Linked DNA regions of Homo sapiens. The protein of the gene in region 2 interacts with the protein of the main gene of each other region in a pairwise test. Each region holds a gene or a part of one and is shown on either strand. Other genes may lie near its edges. The genes, in order: CLEC12B and LSMEM2.

Evidence for each region.
Region 1: the proteins of LSMEM2 (region 2) and CLEC12B interact in binary tests that used the Homo sapiens proteins (3 or more experiments, as listed by UniProt).

Annotation. Positions count from the first base shown.
Region 1 is NC_000012.12:10,016,147-10,019,300, forward strand, and holds the end of CLEC12B (C-type lectin domain family 12 member B), read left to right. Parts: exon of another isoform or gene 1-1,803; intron 1,804-2,184; coding exon 2,185-2,335; 3' UTR 2,336-2,650; downstream 2,651-3,154. UniProt on the Homo sapiens protein: Inhibitory receptor postulated to negatively regulate immune and non-immune functions. Upon phosphorylation, recruits SH2 domain-containing PTPN6 and PTPN11 phosphatases to its ITIM motif and antagonizes activation signals.
Region 2 is NC_000003.12:50,277,377-50,281,890, reverse strand, and holds the start of LSMEM2 (leucine-rich single-pass membrane protein 2), read right to left. Parts: upstream 2,805-4,514; 5' UTR 2,778-2,804; coding exon 2,720-2,777; intron 1-2,719.

The DNA.
Region 1 (3,154 bases), on a different chromosome or scaffold from region 2:
ACCTACAATCCAAAAGGGTGCTGCTGGTCATAAGAACACATATCAACACATTTATTTATACTAAATAACTGTCAACCATTTTCTAACAAAAAGTAAGACTGAATTGACTGATTAGTTCAACAATTAGTGTCATGTTGAGGACTTGCCAATTACAATATACGGCAAGTGTCTTTTATGAATTAAAATGAACTAAACCTTCCACTTCAGGGTTTGGATGAAACTATTTAAAGGACAAATAGAATATATAACACTTGGAAAATTTCAATTTTTTTAACTATTTAAAGTTATGAAAAAATAGACGTCAACAAAAATGTGTAAGGGGATATTAGGTTTGCTAAATTCTTTCACAGACTATAAAACAAAAAATTTTGAGGAACACCTCTCATCATAACTACATTTAAATGAAACAACTGTATTAATATTTTAAATATAATAGTATTTTTCTATTAGATAAAATTTAAGATCTTTGGCATCTTAATGGATTTTTAAACTTTTTATTGATACATAAGAGATGTATATGTTTTGGGGTATATGTGATAATTTGATACATTCAGATAGTGTGTAAAGATCAAATAAGTGGAATTGGGATATCGATCACTTTAAATATTTATCTTTTCTTTATGCTAGGAGCATTCAAATTATTATTTTCTCATTATTGTGAAATGTACAGTAGATTATTGTTAATTGTATTCACCCTAATAATCTATGAAACACTAGGTCTTACTTCTTCTATCTAACAGAATATTTGTATTCATAATGGCTTTTTATCTACCTTCCTCCCCCAACAAATCATTATCCACCCCCCTCCCTCCTGTTTCACTCTTTAAAGCATGTTGTCAACGTTTTCTTAAACTGAATAATAATCACTCATCTTCTGTCAAAGATGCCATGCTTCAGCTGTGACTCAGCAGTTCCTTAAATCACAAACAATGGTAGGTCTATTATTTTCTCCCTGGATACACTTTATCTTCATCCATTTCCCAATGTTTTGTCATGGCTATTTCTACTCAAACACTAATCCCCCATTCTCTAATCACCATTATTAATCATATCAAGTCAATTAGTTTGGTTTCACACTAATAATAATGACAAAAAGCACATGCAGAGTAATACACAAACAAAAAAAGTGACAGTTACTTTTTTGTGACAAGAGCAATATTGGGTATGAACTGATTAATATTAATCTGAGGTGTTGCTACTAGACTGAGGGTTTCCAGGAGTAGTACTATGACATCATGTAAACACATTCAGTTTTCATGTTGGAATCTAAGATGTGTCCCTTCTCCCAAAGGGATTTTAATCATTCTTGGCCTCTCTACTCACTCTTAATCAAAGTGTGGAGGAGGTGGCCCCCACAGCAGGGTTTGGAACCTACAGACCCTGGCCCCTGAGACATGCAGCTGTCAGACAAGCCAGCATGTCAAACACAGGTTAGAGAGACTGAGCTTCCAGATTGCATAGCCATTTCCTTGACTACTGAGTAAAGGCCAAGGCTAAGATTTAGTAAGCCTAGCCCTGAAGCAAGCAAAGAATATGGCAGTGTAATGCAGGTCATTTAGAAAAAAACAATGTTGGGCACAAAGAAAATTTAGATCTGACAAGTATAATTTTCTAAAGACATTATTTCAGGATTAACATCAATTTCTTAGCAGAGGAAATGAATACTATTGTCAGAACCATATCTATATAGTCAATCATTTCCTCTTTTAACGTCTGTCTTGTTCTCTTTTTACCCACCACATATGTATAACTATGTGAAAAATTATATTTGTGCATAATAAAATGTGATAACTTTTTACAACAGAATGTGATTTTATTTTTATGTTTTTCTTCATAAGGTCCCAAAGAACTTCAAGTACTTCTAATATAAGCTGAACTGATTAGATTTCATTAATGGAATTACATATTTATGAAGGAAATACAAATTCTCAGTCCAGGATTTAAGTATTTCTCTTAAAGAATTCTACCTGGGATTATGATTAACTTAAAATAAAGAACCCAGATGTGCCAGCTCTGGGCAGATTTTGTGCCAGCTTTAGGCAGCTTCAGATTTTGAAGCTTTGTGGAGGCAGAAGTCTCTCCATATTCAGATACATGACATTGGCTGTAAGAGCAACTGAGGGCACTAAATAGTGATCACGTTTCAAATACAGAATTTATAATTAATTTTAAATTAATTTTCAGATTTAGTACTAAAGAACTTGACCAGATCAATGGATCCAAAGGATGTGCTTATTTTCAAAAAGGAAATATTTATATTTCTCGCTGTAGTGCTGAAATTTTTTGGATTTGCGAGAAGACAGCTGCCCCAGTGAAGACTGAGGATTTGGATTAGTATGCTTCTTCCAAATTCTCCAAGAAGTAAGAGACTTGTGAGTAAGCTCATATGAGGAAAGAGGAAACTACGGTACCAGAGCCAAACCAGCTTTTAAAATGACTGTGTATTTACATTATCAGACAAATGAACTTGTTTAACAGAACATTCTCCAGTTCCTTGTCTGACGTCTTCTGATTTGATGTTATTATTCGGTCTTAAAATTATACCTGGGGACAAAGGGGAATAGCCATACTATGGCCCTATGATTGTCTCAGAATCATTTCACTGAATTTCTTTGCTTTCTCAAATAAAGACTCCTTTCTTTCATTATTATTATACTGTCACGTGTGCACTAGGGTGATATTTAAATATTTAAAAACTAGGGTGATATTTAAATATTTAAAAACACAGGCCACAGCACTAGAACAAGGTCCAAGAGATGCCTGTTGTGATAGTTGCTGGGTCATGTGGAGGTCTGGGGGATCCCAGGCTAAGGGTCCTGGTAGCTGGGGCTGCAGCACTGTATCAACTGATTTGGAAATATTTTATTTTAGCAAATGTTTGTACCACTGTGAACCAGCTAAGTGTCGCCCTGCACTTGCAAAATAGCTTTTCTTCTCCAACAACCCTATGAAAATAAGCGTTCTTATTAATCTTTAAAATTTAGATAATTTATAATCTAGGCATAATAATTTAATATTTACTTTTTTTTGAGACACTGTCTCACTCTGTTGCCTAGGCTGTAGTATTGTGATGTGATTGGCTCACTGCAGCCTCAATCTCCTGGGCTCAATCGATCCCTCCCACCTCAGCCTCCCGAATACCTGGGACCACAGG
Region 2 (4,514 bases):
GACAGAGCTAGACCTCGTCTCAAAAAACAAAAAAGTAATTAAAGATTAGTTTGGTGTGGTGGCATGCTTCTGTGGTCCCAGCTTCTCAGGAGGCTGAGGTGGGAGGGTTGCTTGAGTCCAGGAAGTCAAGGCTGCAGTGAGCTGTGATCATGCCATTGTACTCCAGCCTGGGCAACAGAGTGAGACCCTATCTCCAAAAAAAAAAAAAAAAAAAAAAAAATTCCCTGCTGCCGGGCGCAGTGGCTCACACCTATAATCCCAGCACTTTGGGAGGCCAAGGCAAGTGGATCACAAGGTCAGGAGTTTGAGACCAGCCTGGCCAATATGGTGAAACCCCGTCTCTACCAAAAATATTTAAAAATTAGCCAGGTATGGTGGCAGGCGCCTGTAGTCCCAGCTACTTGGGAGGCTGAGACAGGAGAATCACTTGAACCTGGGAGGCAGAGGTTGCAGTGAGCAGAGATCGTGCCACTGCACTCCACCCGGGGCGACAGAGCAAGACTCCGTCTCAGAAAAAAAAAAAAAAAAAAGGGCCGGGCGCAGTGGCCCATGCCTGTAATCCCAGCACTTTGGAAGGCCGAGGTGGGCAGGTCACGAGGTCAGGAGATCGAGACCATCCTGGCTAACACAGTGAAACCCCGTCTCTACTAAAAAATTCAAAACAAAAATTAGCTGGGCATGGTGGCTGGCGCCTGTAGTCCCAGCTACTCGGGAGGCTGAGGCAGGAGAATGGCATGAACCCGGGAGGCAGAGCTTGCAATGAGCCAAGATCGTGCCACTGCACTCCAGCCTGGGCGACAGAGCAAGACTCTGTCTCAAAAAAAAAAAAAAATTTCCCTCTTTGTACTTTGTTGTGCTTTTCTCACACTTTCTAAATTGAATGTGAATTGTTTATTACAGGAAAAACACACAGTAAATGTTATTGTTAAGATCCCAAAAGAGGGTAGGCACAGTGGCTTATGCCTCTAATCCCAGCACTTTGAAAGGCCAAGGTGGCTGGCCGGGCGCGGTAGCTCACACCTGTAATCCCAGCACTTTGGGAGGCCGAAGTGGGTGGATCACGAGGTCAGAAGATCGAGACCATGCCGGCTAACACAGTGAAACCCCATCTCTACTAAAAATACAAAAAATTAGCCAGGCGTAGTGGCGGGCTCCTGTAGTCCCAGCTACTCAGGAGGCTGAGGCAGGAGAATGGCGTGAACCCGGAAGGCGGAGCTTGCAGTGAGCTGAGATCGCGCCACTGCACTCCAGCCTGGGCGACAGAGCGAGACTCCATCTCAAAAAAAAAAAAAAAAGAAAAGAAAGGCCAAGGTGGGAGGATTGGATTGGTTGAGGCCAGGAGTTCAAGACCAGGGAGACCCTTCTCTACACACACACATGCATGAAAGTAAACATTTCCCCCTACCAGGGGCAAGGCCCCTCTCCTGCAATGTTGAAAATGTTGGCAGTGGCTCACGCCTGTAATCCCAACAATTTGGGAGGCCAAGGTGGGTGGATCACCTGAGGTCAGGAGTTTGAGACCAGCCTGGCCAACACGGTGAAACCTTGTCTCTACTAAAAATACAAAAATTAGCCGGGCATGGTAGCACATGCCTGTAATCCCAGCTACTTGGGAGCCTGAGACAGGAGAATAGCTTGAATCTGGGAGGCAGAGGTTGCAGTGAGCCGAGACCGCACCACTGCACTCCAGCCTGGGTGACAAAAAAAAAAAAAGTTGAGGCCAGGCGCGGTGGCTCACCCCTGTAATCCCAACACTTTGGGAGGCTGAGGTGGGTGGCTTACGAGGTCAGGAGTTCAAGACCAGCCTGGCCAAGATGGTGAACCCCCGTCTCTACTAAAAATACAAAAATTAGCTAGGCATGGTGGCAGGCGCCTGTAATCCCAGCTACTTGGGAGGCTGAGGCAGAGAATTGCTTGAATCTGGGAGGCGGAGGTTGCAGTGAGCCGAGATCACGCCACTGTACTCCGGCCTGGGTGACAGAGCGAGATTCCATCTCAAAAAAAAAAAAAAAGTTGAAAATGTGATAAGAGGAGCTTGCTAGCTGGGCCATGCTCTGTCATGGGCCATAACATGGAGCCATGGAGCAGACAGTCCTACGTCCTGGCCAGTACTGGACCTGTAGCTTCCTAGATTCCTGCTGCCCTGGCCCCTCTGAGCATCAGTACTTCTTATATGCAGTGGTGCAGTTAGGTGAGTGGCCACCAAGCTCTTGACTAGCTGAGTCTCTGTCTGACCAGGCCAAGGGACCCCCAACCCTAGGCAGTTGGGGATATTTAGACCCAAGTCAGGGGAGGCCAGAGGCCTAACTACTTTTCAGTCCATGGGACAGGTACCCAAATGCTTTCTGGAACCACTACCCACCCCAATCCCAGCTTCCTTCCTTAAGAGCTGAACCGGCCAGGCAGCTGACCGGATGCCCACACCCACCTGAGCACAGCCTGTAGTTGACCCACTCCTAACTGGGTAGCTTCTCCCATCCCTCCTTGATGTCCCCAGCAGGGGAAACTGAAGCAGGGCCTGAGGTGACAAGGGGCTCCAGGCATGGCAGGCTTTTCCTCCCTGCACAGGGGGCAGGTCCTTTTACTGGAGCTGGAGCATGAAAATGGGTAACTAACTACTCAAGACAGTGAGGTCAGTGGGACAGAGGGTGGGTCTCTCCATGGTCCACAAGGTCACAGGACTGAGGCCTTGCCCTCCCTCATGGTCACCCTCTCCTACCTTCTTGGGTCTCCTCAGGCATGGCAAGCAGTGGGCAGTCGGGGGCCAATGATGGCATCCAGTAGCAGGACTGGACAAATGCAGCAGTGGCTCCTTTGTGAGCCCAGGGAAGGCCTGGCTGCCTCCCAGCCTTGGCCTAAAATAGGCCTGAGCTCAGCCCACTGGGCTATATTTAGAGGGGGCAGCCCTCAGCCATGGGAAGGGGCAGAGTGATCCACGTGGGCCAGCCTGAACTATCTACCTGGTGAGGGAGCCAGCCAGGAGCCTGCCTCCACTAGTCCAGGTGCCCAGGGACCTTCAAGGGGAAGCACACCTCCCCCATACATCCAGAATGGCCACTCCAGGCTCAGCAAGGCCCCATGTGGCAGCCAAGACAGACAAAGGAAGCCTGTGCATCTCTATTTGGCCACCCCTCTACCCCTGCAGACTCCTACCCACAGCCCAGTCATCTCTCCTCCCAGCAAACACAGCAGCCTCCACTGCATGACCTGCTAGCACACAATGCTATTGTTGTGTGTGTCTTATAGAGGGTGATGGACAACTGAATCCCAATGCCATGAGGGCTCTGATAGCTTCACAAGTGGGCAGATACACCAACAGCACCCATGCTGGCCAGTGGGTGGACCTAGGTTGGAGGCTGGTTCATTTGTTACTAAGCTTGCAACCTTAGGTAAAGGGTCTCCCCTCTCTGAACTCAGTTTGCTCATGTGTAAAGTCGGAATAACAGTGGCTCCTCCCTGGCAGTGTACACTGAGAACAACATCTGGAGCATTTAGCACAATCCACGGTTTTGGTCTTCCCCTGCTCCCATCTCCACAAGGGCAGACAGGTCCCATAAGGTTGTGTAAGGATGCGCATCACTGCTTACCTTGAAAGGAGGAGGTGGTCCAGCTTCCAGCTTTCCCTCTGTGGTTGGATCCCTGTGCCCTTCCTTCCCAGTGGGGGCAAAGCAAGACTGTGGGCTCTACTTCCTACACACCTCAAACCTGTCACTCCGTTGTCTCACACTGGCCTCCCTGATGTTCCTCAAAGTCAACAAGCTTGTTACCACCTCAGGGGCTTGGTGGTGGCTGTTCCCTCCTGGAATGCTCTGCTCCCAGATAGCCCTGTGGCCAGCCCCGTCTTGTCAGCGAACTCAAATGCCACCCCTTCAGTGAGGCCTTCTGTGTACATTCTTTTCCACATCACCCAGTTTTCTTTTCTTTGAGACAGAGTCTCGCTCTGTTGCCCAGGCTGGAGTGCAGTGGGGCGATCTCGGCTCACTGCAACCTCTGCCTCCCTGGTTCAAGCAATTATCTTACCTCAGCCTCCTGAGTAGCTGGGATTAAAGGCGCGTGCCATCACACCCACCTAAGTTTTGTATTTTTAGTAGAGACAGGGTTTCACCATGTTGGTCAGGCTGGTCTTGAACTCCTGACTTCATGATCCGACTGCTTCGGCCTCCCAAAATGCTGGGATTACAGGCGTGAGCCACTGCGCCCGGTCCAGTTTTATTTTCTTCCTAGCACTTAGTCCTGAAGTTATATTATGCACAATGTACCCTGCGTGTCACTATTCCCAAAGGCCCTACAGAACCTGTTCAGTCACGCGGAACCACCTTTTTTTTTTTTTTTTTTTTTTTTTTTGGAGTCTCGCTCTGTCGCCCAGGCTGGAGTGCAGCGGCGAGATCTAGGCTCATTGCAACCTCCACCTCCCAGGTTCAAGCAATTCTCCTGCCTCAGCCTCCTGAGTAGCTAGGATTACAGGCGCCCGCCACCACGCCCGACTAATTTTTTGTATTTTTAGTACAGACGGG